Linked DNA regions of Homo sapiens. The protein of the gene in region 3 purifies or fractionates together with the protein of the main gene of each other region. This does not show direct contact. Each region holds a gene or a part of one and is shown on either strand. Other genes may lie near its edges.

What was found. Proteins that work in one complex are often made in the same cells at the same time.
Region 1: the proteins of KAT2B (region 3) and TAF5L purify together in Homo sapiens (affinity purification with mass spectrometry; 5 studies listed by BioGRID and IntAct, with this or other methods). This does not show direct contact.
Region 2: the proteins of KAT2B (region 3) and TADA2A purify together in Homo sapiens (affinity purification with mass spectrometry; 6 studies listed by BioGRID and IntAct, with this or other methods). This does not show direct contact.

Annotation. Positions count from the first base shown.
Region 1 is NC_000001.11:229,602,097-229,609,137, reverse strand, and holds part of TAF5L (TAF5-like RNA polymerase II p300/CBP-associated factor-associated factor 65 kDa subunit 5L), read left to right. Parts: intron 1-1,302; exon of another isoform or gene 1,303-1,330; coding exon of another isoform or gene 1,331-1,364; intron 1,365-2,261; exon of another isoform or gene 2,262-2,720; intron 2,721-2,944; exon of another isoform or gene 2,945-3,019; intron 3,020-6,218; coding exon 6,219-6,943; coding exon of another isoform or gene 6,944-6,949; exon of another isoform or gene 6,950-7,041. UniProt on the Homo sapiens protein: Functions as a component of the PCAF complex. The PCAF complex is capable of efficiently acetylating histones in a nucleosomal context. The PCAF complex could be considered as the human version of the yeast SAGA complex.
Region 2 is NC_000017.11:37,465,871-37,472,911, forward strand, and holds part of TADA2A (transcriptional adapter 2-alpha), read left to right. Parts: intron 1-1,583; coding exon 1,584-1,655; intron 1,656-4,529; coding exon 4,530-4,662; intron 4,663-5,223; coding exon 5,224-5,267; intron 5,268-7,041. UniProt on the Homo sapiens protein: Component of the ATAC complex, a complex with histone acetyltransferase activity on histones H3 and H4. Required for the function of some acidic activation domains, which activate transcription from a distant site. Binds double-stranded DNA.
Region 3 is NC_000003.12:20,148,445-20,154,944, forward strand, and holds the end of KAT2B (histone acetyltransferase KAT2B), read left to right. Parts: coding exon 1-43; intron 44-3,887; coding exon 3,888-4,081; 3' UTR 4,082-5,960; downstream 5,961-6,500. UniProt on the Homo sapiens protein: Functions as a histone acetyltransferase (HAT) to promote transcriptional activation. Has significant histone acetyltransferase activity with core histones (H3 and H4), and also with nucleosome core particles.

The DNA.
Region 1 (7,041 bases), on a different chromosome or scaffold from region 3:
GGCGGGGACCATATCAATATATCTTAGGACAATATCTATCCTGGCATGTAGTCAGCACTTAACATAAATACAGGCTGAACGAATGAAGGAGACAGGCTCAAAGAAGCCAGATAATTTGCTTCTTTTTCTTTTTTTTGAGACGGTATTGTTCTGTTGCCCAGGCAGGAGTGCAGTGGCATGATCACGGCTCACTGCAGCCTTGACCTTCTGAGATCAAGTGATCCTCCCATCTCGGCCTCCTGAGTAGCTGGGACCACAAGCATGTGCCACAACACCTGGCTAATTTTTTTAAATTTTTTTGTAGAGACAGGGTCTCACTGTGTTGCCCAGGCTGGTTTCAAACTCCAGGCCTCAAGCAGTCCTCCCATCTTGGCCTCCCAAAGTGCTGAGATTGTAGGCACAAGCCACCACACCCAGCCAAGACATTTGTTTCTAAACCAGCTTCCCCACCACTAGTATGGTGAAAATAAATCTGTCATGGAGAGATTAATATCATATTTTTTTAACTGAGTAAAATAACTTTCTAAAAACTGAGTTAAATTTTTCTGCAAGTTGCTTAAAGCCTCAGAAACCAATGCCAATGATAAAAAATATCTCTAAGTTCTTACCTCTCAATGAAAGAAACCCTTATTATAAATTCGGTTTTTCTTTTTTTATCCTTAGTGGAAATTGATCACTGCACTGAAATATTTAAGATTTATATGATATGCAGAATTAATGGAACTTCCTTTTTTTCAAACATAATAGAGTCATTTTACTAAAGCCTTAATTTTCATGATTTTTCGTTTTTGTAACTATTAAACAGACTATTCTCTACTTATGAATTCTGTCACCCAACAACCATGAAACTGATAAGATAACCCCACTAGAGGGTTTTATTTTGTAACCCTTATTTCCTGTAATATTTTGACCATTTTCTCCAACTGTAGACTATAGTAAATATAGATTCTTTGCTTTAAAATACCATTATGGGGGCCAGGTAAAACTAGGATAATTCTATGCGTGTGTAAGGCCAGGTGTATTATTTTGGTTTATATATTGATTACTGTATACTCGTCGTTTACCATTAAAAATTATTACCACAAGGATTGTTTGGCCAGAACTTTACATTTCAAAAGATTATAGTCTATCAACCATTTCCTTTAAGTTCTTACTTTATTTCTGAACTGAGAAAGTTGTCTGTTATTTTGTCTGTAATTTGATTCTTTAATCCTTTGGTTTAAAGGATCATTATTTTAAAGGGGTTAATATATATTGATCACTTTGGACTGCTGCTCCTGGAATATTTTTCTCTACCCTCAGGTCTCTGAAGAGCAGTTAACCAAATCAAATGAATAGTTATTTCCTGATCACCAAGATAAAGTGTAAGATATACTCATTAATCTATTTTAGAAGCAGTCCTAGCATAAAAACACTATAGGTAAAAGTTTTTACATAAAATTTGAATATCACAGAAGCACTTTCACAGACCAGCATGAGATCAATTGCTGAATCATATAGGAATTGCATTCAGAATGAAAGGAGAAAGTGATTTGGTTGGCGGTAGTCAGAGAAGGCTTTACTGAGCAGGAGGTAGGCTTTAAGTCAGCACTTGAAGGATGGATTGAGTTTCAGTAGACTGGAAGAGGAGGAGGAAGAGGAGTAATTTGGGTAAGAAATAACATGAGCAAAAAGGCAGGCTTGACGACTGTACAGGAACAACTAAGGCTTTGTTGTGAATGGGGGTTTCAGGCTGGAGATCAATGAATATTAGTCTGAAAGCAGTTTGTAAAATTATTTGTAAGAGGAATGGCAGGGAGACTGACTGTGAATTAAAGTGCTTGGCAATCTTGAGAAATGAGGTGAGAAAGGACCAGAATTTGACAGCATTGTGGAACTGGAAGGCAGGAGCTTTATTTCATAGTTAAATTACCAAGGTGGAATCTCCAAGGCTCAGGAGTAAAGGAGGAAGAAGAGGTGACGATGGCTCAGGCTTTAAGACTGGAGTGGAGATGAAGATTTATTGAAAATAAATAAGTCAGAAGGGTTTATGTTTGTTAAATTGTCATGACAGTGGCATCCTACTGCATAGCTTGCAGTGGGAAATTTGAGGCTAGGATTTAGGAGAAAGATAAAGACTTGTAATAAAGAACATGTAGCATCAGCTACATGGAGATGCAAATTAAAGTCTTAAGAAGTGATAAAATCTCAAAGGAAGATACTAGGGAAAGATATAAGAGTATCTATGTCTATATCCACCTGAATGTATTTTTCCTCCACAGGTTGTCTGTAGATGAGAGATTCTGTGAGCTCACCTATTGCCGTAGGTCCTATTCTTCAGGAGGTGTAGTGGGAAGAACACAGCCTTTGGAGTCAAGCAACCTCTGGATTTGAACCAGGGCCAGCTGTGACTCTTAAACATGATCATGGATGCAAAGTACCTGGCTCCTAAGAGGCACACACCCAGTGTTAATTCTTTAAAGTGAAATGAGCATTTGAGGATTGACAGGAGGAAGAGGAACCAAAAAGGGAGTGACGACAGGACCAAGTAGTGTGGGCTTTCAGAATAAAGGACAGAGGAGTGCTAGTCAATAGAGCCAAACCTTGAAGAAAGGTAGAGGAGAATGAGGACCGACAGGATTAGTTTTGTTTAATTTAGTATCCTTTTTACTACTAATTTCCATGAACTCATGAAAAACTCCATTGTTCTCTCATTTACCGCCAGTAGAGTTGGGCACCAGGTAGGCATTCATTACATTTCAGTGGGTAGATAGAAGGAAGAAAAAGTGTACTTTCAGAGGATATGTTTGTTACTTTTGCAGTTAGAAAAAAATATATTTTAAGTGAGTACACTTTCAGTAAAATACAGAGTATGTTAGATTGCAAGGGAATAATTTAAAATGGGAGTTAGAATTCTGAATCTCACCTTCTTCCAAATTGATCAGTTTTTTTGTTTTATACCCAGCATACTGTTCTCTTCAGACAAGAGAGAGCAATTAAGCAATTTTGAACCTATGAGCTGAAGCAACAGTGAATTTCAGTAAGTTTTAAAGTAGTACATCACTATTTCTTGATAGCTAGGTTTTTTTCTAAACTTACTCAATTGAAATGCCTCTCATTTTAGAAAAGGAGCCTGAAATTTTGTTTCTAAGGAATTGAAAACAATCCTTCATCCCAATAAAAAACAAAGGGAAAAGAAAAACCAAAATCTAGTCACAGTTCTCGAAAGAAACAGCCAAGAGCCAACAGGATGGATATGTAGAGGTTTACTTTAAGGAATTGTTCCATGCAATTGTGGAGGCTTGGCACATTCAAAATCAGGGCGGGCCAGCAGGCTGGAGACCCAGGAAAGAGTTAGTGTTGCAGTTCAAATCCAAAGGCTCTCTGCTGGCAGAATTCCTTCTACTAGGGGAAGATAAGTCTTTTTCTATTAAAGCCTAAACTGATTGATTGATTGATTGGATGAGGCCCACACTTTATGGAAGGTAATCTGCTTTACTCAAAGTCTACTGACTTAAATGTGTTAATCTCATCTAAAAAAAAAAATACCTTCACAGAAACATTTAAAATAATGTTTGACTGAATATCTGTGTGCCGTGGGCCCCCCCACAGTTTGACATGTAAAAGTAACCTCACAAGTCCACTCCTTATTAACTTGGCACCTGTATGCATCTCCTTATTCCATACTTAATCTCCAAATAAAGAGAATAACAAGTTCATACTTCCACCTAACCTAATAAAATTATCCTGTGTACAACCAAAAAACACACTAACCTTTTCCCCGGAGGAGAATGCAAAGTCCTTGGATGATGTTTACTCCTCTCCGTGATATTCCATAATTTTGATACGGTGAGGTAAAGTTAACAATACTTAAATACTATGATATGGAGTCAGTAATCTGGCCAGGCACAGTGGCTCACACCCTTAATCCCAGCACTTCAGAAGGCTGAGATGGGTATATCACTTAAAGTCAGGAGCTCAAGACCAACCTGGCCACCATGATGAAACCTCATCTCTACTAAAAAAAAAATACATATATATATATATATACATACAAAAATTAGCTGAGCGTGGTGTCACACGCCTGTAGCTACTCAATAGGCTGAGGCAGGACAATCACTTGAACCCAGGAGGCAGAGGATGCAATGAGCCGAGATCGCGCCACTGTACTCCAGCCTGGGTGACGGAGCGAGACTCCATCTCAAAAAAATAAAGTCAGTAATCCGATGTTCCATGATAAGGGAACGAGAAAGGAAAGAATGCGAAGATATTTTCTTTTTATATATCTATATATAGATATTCACACCAAAACATTCGTAACAAAACAAGAAATACAACAATTACAGTCCTCGTTTCTGTAGCTGGTCACATGGTGGTTGCTGGTATTCATGGTTGCCTCTTTCCACTACCCATTCTGTATTCCCTTTGCACTCATCTCGCAAGCTGATCGTGGTTTACCTGGTGGGGTGACCCAAACCTTCATTCTTCAGGGGTGTGGGCCATTCATAGTCCTGTATGGATTGTTGTCATTTTTATCGACTGTAATCACAGGGCAGGGTACAGAGATGTCCTAAGGGATCTCCTTAAGCCAGACATACTCCTCCTTACCTCCATTGTGTAGCAGTTCCAGTTCCTCTTGGGCAGGATCAATTACCCCAGCCAACACTGTAACTCCCTTCCTTGCCTATTGATTCAGAGGTGTGAGGAGCCCAAAGTGGCTGGGTGGCTGTCTTAACTTCCAGTTCAGTGGAATGATTGTAATTTTTCATCCTCTAAATAATGAGTAGGGATACATTTATTCTAAAATGCATATTATGAATATTATGCAGCAGATTCATTCACCTTGTGATAAAGTGAAATAGGGTGTTAAGCAGAAATAACATGCAGATATCTTTTATCATCAAATTAGGGAGCAAGATTCTCTGATGCAGTATTCCTCAGTCTTAAACCCTGTATTGATGCCTTTTCATGAAAAAAAAAAAAAATGCTACCAGAACATAAGTGCTGACTTAAAACATTTTTATTTTAATTTATTTAAATATGTACAAACATTACACTAGATCTAAAACCTTTATGCTTATTATATTTCTTTATGAAACCCAGACTCATTACAGATAAGGGACAAGCAAAACCCCAAAGGCAGTCAAGTTGAAAATAACACTGAGTGAATGTAACGGATGGATTTTGCCAGAACTACCTTGCTACTGCAAGCAGGCATCTGGACAGCACTGGTGACTGTGACACGGGCTGGTCTCAGCTCCTTGGGGGGCTTCTGCCCTGCAGTGGCCCTGCTGTCTCCCCACTGTGTATGAATCACATCGAAACCTTTGCTCCCTCACAGCATGCCTTAAGCACTTATTTAGGTGTCAATTATACCTCTGTTCTTTTCTCATTCACCCATGAATTCAAGCTGTACACCTTTTAAATAACATTCTCTGTCTTACAGTTTCATGGCGCTAAACTCCCAAGTTAGTAAGTAGTTGAGTCTTAATGACGTAAAATGGTCTTATTTGTAAATTATCACTGCAAAAGAGAATTTAACTTGTTAACCAACAAAATCAGAATGAATATGCTGATGAGACAATTGTTAATGAAGGCTGTCATGTTAACACAGGACACGCCAGCCTGTATAACCAGACATGTTAATGAGCCCACTAAAATAAGTGCTTTGATTTTACTTGAGACAATGGATGCCAAAAGTAATCACAAAACACAAACTAGAGCACTAAAATCACTTGTCAGTACTTACTTGTTAAGCGGACATCCAGATAATTCTGAATATACTGTGTGTTGATTATTTTTTATATTATCATCACATTAAAAAATTGTGAAGAACTCAATCTTCCAAGAATATGTCTAAGTACCCTCAGATATCTGAGGTCCCCAATTTGAAGAAACACTAACATATTGGGAAAAAATACTAAATCTTGAAGACCTGGGTACAAGCCACTGTATTGTTGTGAACTCTGGCAAGTCACTTAACCACTCTGGGCATTAAGTTCCTGCGTTGTGCCCAACTTCAGGCCCTGATTTGCTGGACTTCAGAGTTCATGCTCTTTCTTCAATCAAAAGGCCTTTGAAATTCCAGAATCCTGTGTTGGGCTTATAGTTCAATCAGTACTCTTAAAAAATGGGGTCCTGGCAAGAAAGCATTATATGATGGTGGTGATCCCCAGGAGGGATCACGTTATTCTGTAAGATTATGCTGATTATAAAGCCTTCTTTTTCTTTCATTATAGATTCTGATTCCCAGCATAGCCACGAAGTGATGCCTCTCCTCTATCCTCTCTTTGTCTACCTCCATCTCAACCTGGTCCAAAACAGTCCGAAGAGCACAGTGGAAAGTTTTTACAGCCGCTTCCATGGAATGTTTCTGCAGAATGCTAGCCAGAAGGATGTCATTGAGCAGCTACAGACCACTCAAACCATCCAGGACATCCTATCTAACTTCAAGCTTCGAGCATTCCTAGATAACAAGTACGTGGTCCGTCTCCAAGAAGACAGCTACAACTACCTTATCCGCTACCTCCAAAGTGACAACAATACTGCCCTGTGCAAAGTCCTCACCTTACATATTCATCTTGACGTGCAGCCTGCCAAGAGAACAGACTATCAGCTGTATGCCAGTGGCAGCTCCTCCCGCAGTGAGAACAACGGTTTGGAGCCCCCCGACATGCCCAGCCCTATTCTGCAGAACGAGGCTGCCCTAGAGGTCTTACAGGAGAGCATTAAGCGAGTCAAGGATGGGCCTCCCTCCCTCACTACCATCTGCTTCTATGCCTTCTATAACACAGAGCAGCTGTTGAACACTGCAGAAATCTCCCCCGATAGCAAGCTGCTTGCTGCTGGGTTTGACAACTCCTGTATAAAACTTTGGAGTTTACGATCCAAGAAGTTAAAATCAGAGCCCCACCAAGTAGACGTGTCCCGCATCCATTTGGCTTGTGATATTCTGGAGGAGGAGGTATGAATACCATTTTTTTCTTCCCTGCACCCGCCTTCCTAATTTCCTTAGAATGTCCTTACCAAACACGACATATCTTAGAATGGACTTCCTAGTTT
Region 2 (7,041 bases), on a different chromosome or scaffold from region 3:
TTCAACACATGGCCAGTCTGGTTTCATCTTTACCACTCACTCTTCCCTCCTGCCCTCAACTGGATTATTCTGAAGCAAATCCCAGACATCATTTTATTTTGTTCATAAATATTTTAGTATTAAAAGTAGTTTTAAAAATGAGGACAGAGATGGATAGCTTGTGGAGATAGTACTTCCATCGATCTCTTGCCTTTCTGTGGTATTTCTGTGAGAGCTCTACATAGTTACCATTTGATTTTTCACTATAAAAAATTAAAAGTTGTTATGAGGCCGGGCGTGGTGGCTCACACCTGTAATCCCAGCACTTTGGGAGGCCAAGGCAAGAGGATTGCTTGAGTCGAGGAGTTCGAGACCAATCTGGGCAACATAGTAAAACTCCATCTCTACAAAAATACAAAAGTTAGCCAGGCATGGTAGTGCACACCTGTAGTCTCAGCTACTTTGGAGGCTGAGGTGGGAGGATTGCTTGAACCCGGGTAGCCGAGGTTGCGGTGAGCTGAGATCACACCACTGCACTCCAGCCTGAGCGACAGAGTGAGACCCTGTTTCAAAACAAAATATGTTGGTATGGCAGTAAGGCCTAGATTGTTAAAATAATATGGACTCTGGCTTGTTCTGTACCTTTCATCATGACATTTGTGTATGTGGCTTCTAAGTTTAGTTCTGGGAAGGTAGTCTACTAAGGCCCTTATTCTCACCGTGAAAATATTTCTTACATAGCATTGCAGACATTTATCTGAGCCAGGTTGGTTGTCCTCACCAAACACCTTGTTTGGTTAGCATTCTTTGTGTGGTTTGTACCAGGTGACTGATCCTTTACTTCCTGTCCCAGTTTGGGACACACCCCTGGTTTATGTGTCATTCCAAAACACTACACCCCATGGATTGTCCAGGCTCTTCCTTCATTCTCTGTTTCAAAAGCAGCCAAATTAGAATGATTTGTAGAACTTTTAATAGAAGATAGTTAGAGCAGGGAAACTTGGTTGTTAAAAAAATTATATTTTGCCCAGTGCGGTGGCTCATTCCTATAATGCCAGCTACTTTGGAAGGCCGAGGCGGGTGGATCACCTGAGGTCAGGAATTCGAGACCAACCTGGCCATCATGGCAGAACCCCATCTCTACTAAAAATACAAAAATTAGCCGGGTGTGGTGGTAGATGCCTGTAATCCCAGCTACTCAGGACGCTGAGGCAGGGGGAATTGCTTGAACCCGGGAGGTGGAGGTTGCAGTGAGCCGAGATCATGCCATTGCAGCCTGGGCGACAGAGCGAGACTCTGTCTCAAAAAAAGAAAAAAAAAATTGTTACTTTTGTAGACAAATGAATTTAACCATTTCACTAAGTTTTCTAGAAGACAGTTCCAGCTGCTGCATCTGGAGACAGCAGCTGGAAGATAGCTGGAGTAGGTTTTCCTCAGCTCTTGGGTAAAATTTCTAATGAGAAGTTACCAACGAGTAGGATTCTCCAAATGAACTTCCCTAGTCTTATAAGGCAGAATTAATGAAAATGCTCAATAGCAAAAGTGCTCACTAATGTTGCTTTTGTTTTTGTAATTTTTTCCTTCATTCCTTTTGGGGAAAACAGTGGAATTTGAACTCCGAAGGGAAATCAAGAGGCTCCAAGAATACAGGACAGCAGGCATTACCAATTTTTGTAGTAAGTATGCTTCAGCTACATACCGTACTTGAGGGCAAGTATCTTCCAGACACACAGAGGAAGTCTCTGAATTGTTGTGAATTTTTTTTTAAAAAACAAGCTTTCCTTTACCAGAATGCTTTAAACCTTTCCAGTAAAGTTTTGGCTATTTAATCCCTATAAATACCTTTGTATAGATTATCTTTGGTACTACAAAAGTTGTGAGACAAAGGAAAGAGAGGTGCTGCTTTAGATTTAGGATTCTGCCGAGGCTCTTTAAAAAAAGGGAATCTTGGGCCGGGTGCAGTGGCTCACACCTGTAATCCCAGCACTTTGGGAGGCCAAGGCAGGTGGGTCACTTCAGTCCAGGAGTTCGAGACCAGCCTGACCAACATGGTGAAACCCTACCTCTACTAAAAATAAAAAAACTAGCCAGGCGTTGTGGTGCACACGTTTAATCCCAACTACTCGGGAGGCTGAGGCACAAGAATCGCTTGAACCTGAGAAGCAGTTGTTGTAGTGAGCCAAGATGGTGCCACTGTACTCCAGCCTGGGTGGCAGAGGGAGATTCTGTTTCAAAAAAAAAAAAAAGGAATTTTATATTTTAGGTGTGTCACCCTTTTCAAATTTAATGATACATGGTCTTAGCATTTTTATAAAATAATGAAGCTTCAACTGGCTCCAGGTGCTTGCATCCCAGTTACTTGGGGTAGTGACAATAATTATATTATTAGCAGCTAACATCTATCAGATATTTACCATGTACCAGTCTCTATGCTAACCATTTCACTTGGATCAAGTCAATGAATTCTCATGACAAACTTATAAAGTACCGTTACTTCCATTTAGTGAAGAAATTAAGGTATAAAGAGGTTACAGAGCTAGTTAGTACTAGAACCAGGTCATAAGAGATAGTGTATTATAGTAGTTAAGAGCTTGGGTCTAGACTTAAAAAGCTTGAGTATAAATTTTGGCTCTCCAGCTTGCCAGCTCTGTGATGTGATTCTATCCAAATTTATTTTTCTTTCCTTTTTTTTTTTTCCCTAGAGACTGACTCTTGCTATGTTGCCCAGGCTGGTCTCAAACTCCTGGCCTCAAGCAGTCCTCCCGCCTAGGCCTCTCAGAGTGCTGGGATTACAGGTGTGAGCAACTGTGCCTGGCCTCTATTCAAGTTTTAATTTTCTAAGGTTCTTAGAGTTAGTGTAAAGATTTAATTAGAGATACTGCATATAAGCATAGCACAGTATCTGGCACACAATAATTCCTCAATAAATGGCAGTTTCTGTTGTTTTGCTGTCATTGTTGAAATGATCTTTAGCATTCCCTCCTTCTTCCTATTTGAAGTTTTTGTGATTATTGATAGTTGTCACCTACTATCTATAAGAAATAGTTGGCTTCTTTTTTTTTTTTATTTGAGACGGAGTCTGGCTCTGTTGCGCAGGCTGGAGTTCAGTGGTGCCATCTTGGTTCACCACAACCTCTGCCTTCTAGGTTCAAGCGAGTCTCCTGCCTCAGCCTCCTGAGTAGCTGGGACTACAGTCATGCACCACCATACCCGGCTAATTTTTTTTTTTGTATTTTTAGTAGAGATGGGGTTTATCCATGTTGGTCAGGCTGATCTCGAACTCCTGACCTCAGGTGATCCACCCACCTCAGCCTCCCAAAGCGCTGGGATTACAGGTGTGAGCCACCACGCCCGGCAATAGTTGGCTTCTTAACACAGCCCTGTGGGTGCAACATAGCCTTATGGATGTAAGTTCAGCCTAGTATAATGGCTCTTTAACAGTGGAAACCATTTTTGAAATTAAATTTTGTGTGAGCCCCAATCTACAAATAAGATAAAAGTGGGCTGGGCACGGTGGCTCACACCTGTAATCCCAGCACTTTGGGAGGCCGAGGCGGGCGGATCACTTGAGGTCCAGAGTTCAAGACCAGCCTGACCAACATGGAGAAACCCCGTGTCTACTAAAAATACAAAATTAGCTGGGCATGGTGGCGCATGCCTGTAATCCCAGCTACTCCGGAGGCTGAGGCAGGAGAATGGCTTGAACCTGGGAGGTGGAGGTTGCTGTGAGCCGAGATCGCGCCATTGCACTCAAGCCTGGGCAACAAGAGCGAAACTCCGTCTCAAAAAAAGATAAAAGTGGAATTACTTTGGTTGAACTTTAATGGTTCAATTTATGTGTAGAGCCCAGGACCCGCCGGTATCTGGCAGTGCCCTTTCTCTTTACATTAACCTCTAAGATACTCTTGTGGTATCCTGGGGCTCTGTGGAACCTAGTTTGAATTTTGAAACCCACTGGTGCAGTATTTTGGAATCTGTGAACCTTTGTTAACATGTAGAAAACACCACGCAGCTCTTCTGTTTAGCAAGATGCATATAGAGACTCTGATAACTAATTTTGGTTTCCTGATATTGGCTGCCTCTAAGAAATATGGAGAAGAGGTACTACATGTCAAAGAGAACTCTTTTTTTGTAATTCTAATTGTTTTTTAAGGAAAGGCATATGCTTATAGCACTTGTGTGACTTTGAAAAAATTTATAAAAATAGAAAAAACAGGAAGCAAATATGACTATAGTAAAAGTTGGTTACTTTTTGAGAGTGGAAATATGAGCAATTCTTACTTTCTTTGTACTTTTCTGTTGGTTTTTTTCCCCTTATTTCTTACAGATAGAAAAGGAATACAAATGTTTAATATTTAATACTTAGTATTAAGAAAAGGATTTCAGACTAGGGAAAATCTACTTGGGTCTTGGAGAAATAATTGTGAAAGCAGTTTTGCAAAGGAAACAGACTTTAAGAACAAAACCCAAAACCGGTTTCTTGGTCAGTTAGGAAGCCCTTCAGTTCTGCTGCATTGTCATTGTGGTCATTGTGTTTTCTATACCCCCAGGTGCCAGAACCTACGATCACCTCAAGAAGACACGGGAGGAAGAGCGCCTTAAACGCACTATGCTCTCAGAAGTTCTCCAGTATATCCAGGACAGTAGTGCTTGCCAGCAGTGGCTCCGCCGGCAAGCTGACATGTGAGTAATTACTCCAGGGTGAAGGAGGCATTCTTTCTGGGATGCCTTGGCCTTCACATATATTTTTGGGCACCCTAGATGGCAGAGTAATAATAATTGAGTAGCTGGAAGAATTCAGAAATATTTTAGCAGTCCATCTCAGAAACAGTGCCATACTGACAGTTTTGAGAAATAACTGACCTCCTAGAATCATACTTTACTACTTTGATCCTATTTTTTAAAATGAGTGTATTTTCCCCCAGCCTTCTACCCATGACTTCAACTCTCTCTTCATACCTAGATTTTCACTGGGGAATCATGTTTGTATCCCTTCCCCTTGAGTGGTGTTAGTGGTGTTCTAGATTACAAGCTCTTCTTAACAAATCTGAGGAATTTTTCTTCCTCAGAACAGATTTTCTTTCCTGCTCAATACAGTGAGATATCTGTAAAACATAGTTCAGTCTATCTCATTACACTTCTTCAAGGTGACCTACCTGATAAATGGCACCCAGTCTCACCGGGGCTTTTGGAAATCACCTTGTTTGATATGACCTAAGTTTAAATTCCTCTTCTTCGTTGTAGTGATTCCGGCCTGAGTCCTTCCATTCCAATGGCTTCGAATTCAGGTAATTATTTCTCAGGCCAGAACAAGTCTTAATTGTGAAGTTTGCATCGTAGGGGTTATAGTGACCCAGCAATCTTCCTTCCTCTGTGGTGTCAGGGTGCTTAGGCAGAGTAACAGTAATCAAGTGTTAGCCCAATATATAAACATCAGTATGTTTTCAGAACCTTCATGGCCAGACAGAGACTATCCTCAGAGTGACAGTATAGAGTATAGACAGTATAGAGACAGGGGAAAAAAGAACTTCAGAGAGGTAACTTCTTTATTTTACCAATGTTCATGAGCAGTTAGTTTACTGCAGTTGTGTCTACCACTAATTTTGAGACTTATTTCACAGGAGATAAATTAAAAGCTTTTTATTTTATTATTTTTTATTTATTTACTTATTTTTTGAGACAGAGTCTCGGTCTGTCGCCCAGGCTGGAGTGCAGTGGTGTGATCTCGGCTCACTGCAACCTCCGCTTCCCGGGTTCAAGTGATTCTTCTGCCCCAGCCTCCCGAACAGCTGGGATTACAGGCATGCACCACCACGCCTGGCTAATTTTTGTATTTTTGGTAGGGACGGTTTTGCCATGTTGGCCAGGCTGGTCTCGAACTCCTGACCTCAAGTGAGGCACCCACCACGGCCTCCCAAAGTGCTGGAATTACAGGCGTGAGCCACCGTGCCCAGCCTAAACTTTTTATTTTTATATAACATGAGCAAAGAAGCATGTTACTTGCCAGAAACATAAGGATTTCTGAGTTAGAGACCTAAAGTATTTCTATTTCTTCGTTTTACCTCTTTGAGTATGTCCTATTTTGAAATTAGTATACAGAGCAAGATTAAGCCATACGCTATCTGATGATCCTTGGTGATTGGTAATCGATGACTGGGAATTGGGGGAGGTATGTCTCAGTAGATTCAGAATCTGGGTCTCAGATTTGTCCGCGTTAGGGACTTTTTTTTTTTTGAGATGGAGTCTCGCTCTGTCACCCAGGCTGGAGTGCAGTGACGCGATCTTGGCTCACTGCAACCTCTGCCTTCCGGATTCAAGCGATTCTCCTGCCTCAGCCTCCCAAGTAGCTGGGATTAGAGGCGCCTGCCACTATGCCCAGCTGATTTTTGTACTTTCAGTAGAGATGGGGTTTCGCCATGCTGGCCAGGCTGGTCTCGAACTGCTGACCTCAGGTGATCTGCCTGCCTCGGCCTCCCAAAGTGCTGGGATTACAGGCATGAGCCACTGCGCCTGGTCACTGAAGGGACTTTTTTTTTTCCCCCATTTATTCCTTTATTTCAAGTGATTTTTTCTTAATATGGAAAGAAGAAAAAGGTATTGTTTTAGGGGAGTGGCTAAGACAGTGAAATCAAAGTTTTATTTTGTAAGTTTCTTACTGCCAACACTCTACCCCCAAAATCTAAATACAACTAAGTTAATACTGGCTAATTAAAATGAAGGAACTGGGTCAGGTGCAGTGGCTCATGCCTGTAATCCCAGCACTTTGAGAGGCTGAGGCGGGCAGATCACCTGAGGTTGGGAGTTTGAGACCAGCCTGACCAACGTGATGAAAACCCATCTCTCCTGAAAAAAAAATATAAAAATTAGCTGGGTGTGGTGGTACACATCTGTAATCCCAGCTACTCCAGAGGCTGAGGCAGGAGAATCGCTTGAATCCGGGAGGCAGAGGTTTCAGTGAGCCAAGATCGCACCATTGCACTCCAGCCTGGGTGACAGAGTTAAGACCATCTCAAAAAATAAATAAATTAATTAATTAAATTAAATGAAGGAACTGGCTAACAT
Region 3 (6,500 bases):
ACAGAAGCTCCAGGATATTATGAAGTTATAAGGTTCCCCATGGGTAATACCATTAACATTTTCTAAGTATAGATTTAAAACTCTGGATGGCGGTGTGGGGGACAAATGGTTGCTGAGGTTGATTTGTACTCCTCTGCTTAGGGTAGGAAGTGTATGACGGGTGGTGGGATTCCATGCACCGTGGCGGGTCAGTGATGGCAGAGAAGTGGGTGGCTGTGTTCATTAGAGACATTCTGCAGCTGTCGTTTAGAGCCCACATGAGCTTAACGACACTAGACGCAGAAAATCCACGGTAACTGCAGACAGCACTAGATTTGAAAGCTGGCACTTTAGATATAACTTTGCTTATATTCTAACTCTTTGGTGCAAATAGAAAAACATCAGCTTATCCTCTTGATATGCTTTGCGTCTGTCGTAAATAGGTATTCCTTTGAATAATTATTCAGGATAATAATGAAAGAAGTTAGATTAAAGTACTTGACTGCTGTACTTTCAGAGGGAGAAATTCTACTTACCACAATTCTTGATTTTCCATGCCCTTGATGGGTACTGTTAATGTCACTGTATATACTCTTTATTTTACGCTTTGTCTCATATCCAAAATCAAACAAAAAAGGATGTCTTCAGAAATGTAGAATTGTGCAGTTTGGTGCTGTGCCCACACCACTCTAAAATTAATGATTAATTGAATCATTTGAGGTCGCTCAAATTAAACTAATTTGGCATTGTGTGGGTGACAACCAGTTGAAATGTTTTCTTTTTATCAGCTATGTGGCCATATTTTTGGAGAGAGCCAGAGTCTTCTGTCTCTTTTCTACCTGTAATCTATTCCAGGTGCTAAGAACTGTGAAAGTCCAGCTTGGGTAATGTAGTGAGACCCTGTCTCTACAAAAAGTAAAAAATTAGCCAGGTGCAGTGGCACACGCCTGAGGCCCCAGCTACTTGGGAGGCTGAGGTTGGAGGATCACTTGAGCCTGGGAGTTTGAGGCTGTAGTGAGCTGTGATTGCACCACTGCACTTCAGCCTGGGCACTGGAGGGAGACCGTATCTCAAAAAAAAAAAAAAAAAAAAAAAAATTGTGGAAGTGTTAAAAATGTGAAAAGGAAGAGTGAAAGGGACGCATTAGCTCCTTGAAAACTGAGTTATTTACAGGTGTTTTCTATAGCATTTAAATGTTTCACATGAATATTTTATATATTTGTAGTAATGATTTCAGTAGCCTACACCCTTTAAAGTGAACACACATCTATATGCTTTTCTTTCTCTCTTCTCTCTGACTTACCACTATTTATTTCAGTACAAGAAAATAAAGGGTATGGTTGACTCAGTCTAGAATTCTGAATGGAAGGCTGATTTGGGAATCAATATTGTCCACTATGTGCAAAATATGTTAAAACTCTTTGTGTCCATTTCCAACCATAAATTAACTGATTTTTGCATCCTCTTCCTCTGGACCATCTCAGCTTCTTTTGGGAAACCCCCATGGGAAGCTGTGTGACTTTGGGGCCCTTTCAGCCCCTGTGCACATGCACTCTGATGACGTGCAGCGATAGGTCTAGCAGATCTCGTCGATCATAGCCTACTTGCAGCCTGCTTTCTGAAAGTGTTTTGCTTGGTCCCACCCGTGAAGGTTGTGAACTTCTCCAGTTGGATACCACCTGTATGCATAGCTGAGTCTCACAAGGGGGGAAACTGACCTAATTGAGCAAGGCCAGTGATGGGCTGAAATGTGTGCTGGACAAAGTTAAAGCTATAAATGGTGTTCTTCAGTAGGGCAGTATTTTTTTTCTTGGTATTGTTCAGATGCTGAGTAAAATATTTAGTCTTGTCCCCAAGATTATCTTGTATTTGAAGACAAGATTGACAAATCAGTAATTTTACATTTTCCCACGATTTCCTTATTTGATTTTTCTAATAACATTACTTTTCTTTCCCCATATTCTGAAAAACTGTTTCTCTCATATGGATGGGATCTAACCTGTTTTACTTAGGGAGTCACACACTGGACATCAGCTGTATAGTCTGGCCCAAGCATGACTTCTTGTTACCCATGGATGGCTAGGCAGGGTTTTGCTGCTTACCCAGAATTCCCAAGTTAAGGGGAAAGGACATGAAAACTGAATAATTTAATGGTGTCTCTATATTTGGTACCACCAATATTTAGTCACCTTTTTTAACCCACCTCATTTTGTCAATTGAAAAAACTCTACGAAGGCCAGAGGAAGAAGAATGCTATCTATAGCTTTAGAATAGAAAGGAAGTATTCAGAATTGGTTATAGTTATTCAGAAAAGTCCAGACACCGCCATAATTCTTGCTTTGTTTCTGCTGCATTTTAGGCTCTCTCCATCTTTTCTTACCCATCTCCTAAAAAAGTTCGAAAAGCTTTTGGACAAACTTCTTTGTGTCGTGTCATCCTTTTACTCCCCCTCCCCCTTTTTGGGGGGTACATGTTTCTTCCTTTTAAAACATTATACATATTATATTGGGCAGCATATCTTAAGTGGTAGACATTTAGGTGGAAAAGTGAAAGGAATGTAAACATCTACTTTTACTTAGGGCCAATTTCATTGTTTTTTTCTTCTTTAAATGAGAGAACATTTTGATCTGTTCAGTCACACTTGGATGGGACATTTAGTGTGAGATTTGATGAGTCTTTGTGTTTCTTAGCGCTTTTAGATTTTTATCTCTCTCCAAACTGTTTTAGAGAAGAAAGAAAAGTTGAAAGTTGAATTTACAGATGTGATGACATACACTCTAACCAAGATAGGCTTTATTCAAGAGATAGGCAGAAGCAGCTTTTTTCCATTTCTTCTTTGATGCTTTTGTGGTGGATTTAGGATATTGATGCAAATGAATTCCTTCCCATTTGGGGATATTGTACGTACATTTACTTACCTTATTAAATGATGATCCCAATGTATTTGGTTATAGGTTTCTTTCCCCCTGGAAATTTTATAACATACTTATAATTTGGGATATTGGTAGTCAGAAGTGGGGTTTTTTTTTTCCCATTTGACTTATTTTTCCACACATAGTTAATACAATTATAGCTTTTAACAATAAAGCCAGACTTCAAGACAACCAGGGAACCATAAATAGACAAATGTTAGCGTCTATTCTAATCTGCATAGAATTCCTTAAATTAGTCCTGACAGTGAGGATTGAAGAAACCCTACTTTAGTTTTATCAGTTTAGATGGAGTACTGTTTTCACCTGTAAAATACTACAATTTAAAGCAAGTAGCTATATTGGGAAATATTCTTTGCAATAGTCTCACAAGGCTTACTTGCTTTAGAAAATAGATTATTAAATGAAGTTTGTTATTCTTATTTCATTGATGGAGCTTGAAGCAAATTCATTTGAATCATTTTACATGCAAGGGCACTGGTGTGTTCACAGATGTATTTATTATCAGTTTCTCTATATGACACCAAAACAACTGTGAGTTTAGTGAAACAAATGCAGTCTGATTGTTTTAAGTAATTAAATGATTGAATACAAACGTTCCACCTGCTCTACTCCATATAGATAGAGCCTCTTCTGTATAATTCTGACTGAATAGCTAACAGTAGTCAGTTCATCATACTTATTGTTGCTAATCTACTTAGCTTCCTTGTGCTGAATAGGGGATTGAACCAGATGACTAATAATGGTCCCTTTAATGCTAAAATGGCTGTGATTTTACATTTTTAAAAAACCCACAAAAGAATGAACTTAAGATTTAAGAACTGTTTTCCTTGGTCATAAGAATTTCTCTTAAATAAAAGCATTGGGATGATAAAAATGTAATCAAACCAACAACATAGATTCCTTTCCCAGTCCCAGTTTTGTCAGCTGGTGTTTAAAGGGAGTCAAAGATTGCTAATATTTTTTTTTCCTGTGCAGATCTGAAAACCATGAGTGAACGCCTCAAGAATAGGTACTACGTGTCTAAGAAATTATTCATGGCAGACTTACAGCGAGTCTTTACCAATTGCAAAGAGTACAACCCCCCTGAGAGTGAATACTACAAATGTGCCAATATCCTGGAGAAATTCTTCTTCAGTAAAATTAAGGAAGCTGGATTAATTGACAAGTGATTTTTTTTCCCCTCTGCTTCTTAGAAACTCACCAAGCAGTGTGCCTAAAGCAAGGTGGTTTAGTTTTTTACAAAGAATTGGACATGATGTATTGAAGAGACTTGTAAATGTAATAATTAGCACTTTTGAAAAAACAAAAAACCTCCTTTTAGCTTTTCAGATATGTATTTAAATTGAAGTCATAGGACATTTTTATTTTATGGAATAGATTTTAATCTATTTACTACTATTAAGGTAAATTTTCTATGGCATGTCCATTAGCTATTTCATGATAGATGATTAGGGGTTTCCTCAAAACCTGTGTGTGAGGAAATTGCACACAGTAGCAAAATTTGGGGAAATCCATAACATTTTCAGACCATGAATGAATGTTTCCATTTTTTTCTAATGGAATGTGAGAGTTTACTTTTATTTTATTCTGAAGGACTTTAAGGAAGGGATACATGATTTTAAAAAAGCCTGTAAGAGGTGAAATATGTGATGTTTGAAGTCTCTTTATAGACTTTTTATATATATTTTTTAAAACACTCATCTAGATGAGGTGCTTTGAGCAGTTCTGAAAAATGCAGTTCCAGGAAAGCAACTGCTTTGGTTCCTAAGGAAGAAATTCTAAATAATGCAAACTTTTAAAATAAGCATCTAGGTTTTTGATAATTCTGTCTACTTACAACAAACTTGTTAGTACATAACCACTATTTTAATAATTATTTTCTCTACACAAATGTGTAATATCATATTTGACTTTGCTTATGCAGGCCATAAGTTCCAAAAGATAATTTCCCTGCCCACAAAGGCATAAACTTGAAAACACATGAGATTGAATCAACATGCTTTAATAGGAAAAGATGTATGGTCTATATATGTATCAATCTGGTGAATCCTCGTTCTAATAAAGGTTCTTTTTCTTTTCTATGATACACACAGCCACGCTGATAATATGCAAATGAACATTTTCCTTTATGTCTCTCCAGATAATGTTTATTGTCTGAGGTAAATTAAATTCCCACCAGGGTTTGCTGTCAGTATTTTAACACCCACATTAGTATATGCGTCCAGGGTCATAACCCCCTAAAATCCATCATGCAACCTTATTAATCTGTCTTGGGATTCCAGTTTAGTGCTTGGATTTATTTCCTGATTACACTACATAGAAAAGTGAGACATCTGCCATTCCCAACTCTGGGAAAACCAACTAATATACAACCATATAAATGAAGGCCATCTTGATGGTCTCAACACTAATTTTTATGATGCAAATTTATACACTGATTTTTGTAAAGGACAAAGTTTTAAAAGCGTATTTAACTTGATGTTTTCTATCAGCATAAATAAAATGGTCATGAATAGTCATTAAAAACAGTTGCCAGTGATAATCTGCATGAAGGAAAAAGAACCCTGCAAATGGCTATTGAGTTGGAAGTATTGTTTTTGATATGTAAGAGATATTCAGAATGCTCACACTGAAAATGCCTCAACTTTTTAAAGTGTAAGAAACCACCATGAGTGGTGTCTAGATTTCTAATGAAGAATCATGATACAGTTTGGATTAAGTATCTTGGACTGGTTTTAAACAGTGCTTTGTACCGGATCTGCTGAAGCATCTGTCCAGCTGGTATCCTGTGAAAGTTTGTTATTTTCTGAGTAGACATTCTTATAGAGTATTGTCTTTAAAATCAGATTGTCTCTTCTATATTGAAAGCATTTTTATGTTTTCTAATTTAAAAATTAATATTTTCTTATAGATATTGTGCAATAAAGCTGAAGTAGAATGTGTGGTTTTTGCAAATGCTTTAACAGCTGATAAAAATTTTACATTTGTAAAATTAATATATTGTACTGGTACAAAATAGTTTTAAATTATATTTTAAAAAGCTTCCAATCTTGTGGTGTGTTTTATTCATTCAGTAGGCTGAGGTTAACAGAACAAATTATGATCTGGTTGATAACCATCAATTGAATCCTTAAACCTTAGATCTTAAGCATTCTGTTGCATTTGGGGGAGGTTTCATAAAAAATCCATAGGTCATCAGTAAGAGATTTTCAGGAGAGACACTTACTCTGTCTTTTGAGTTATCCACTGCATCTTACCCACTCACCCGCTAAACAATAACAAAAAAGATTCATTGAAAGAAGAGTGTTGTTGGTTTAGAAATTAAAAGATTTTTGTTTTTATACTTTGCATCTGTGAAATATATATGATGAGAGAAAAATACAGCCGATTTTTAAACATCTCCCATATGAGCTTCTAATGTGATTCAAAATGATGTCTGTAGGAAAGAATACTATATCCTTTTGGGGTTTGAGAGGACCCAACCAAGAGAACCCCTCTTCCCTACTGAAATCTAAACCAACTGAGAAGTTAAAAAAAAAAAAAAAAGGCATATGATGGCCAAAGTATTACCTTTAATACTAGTAAAAT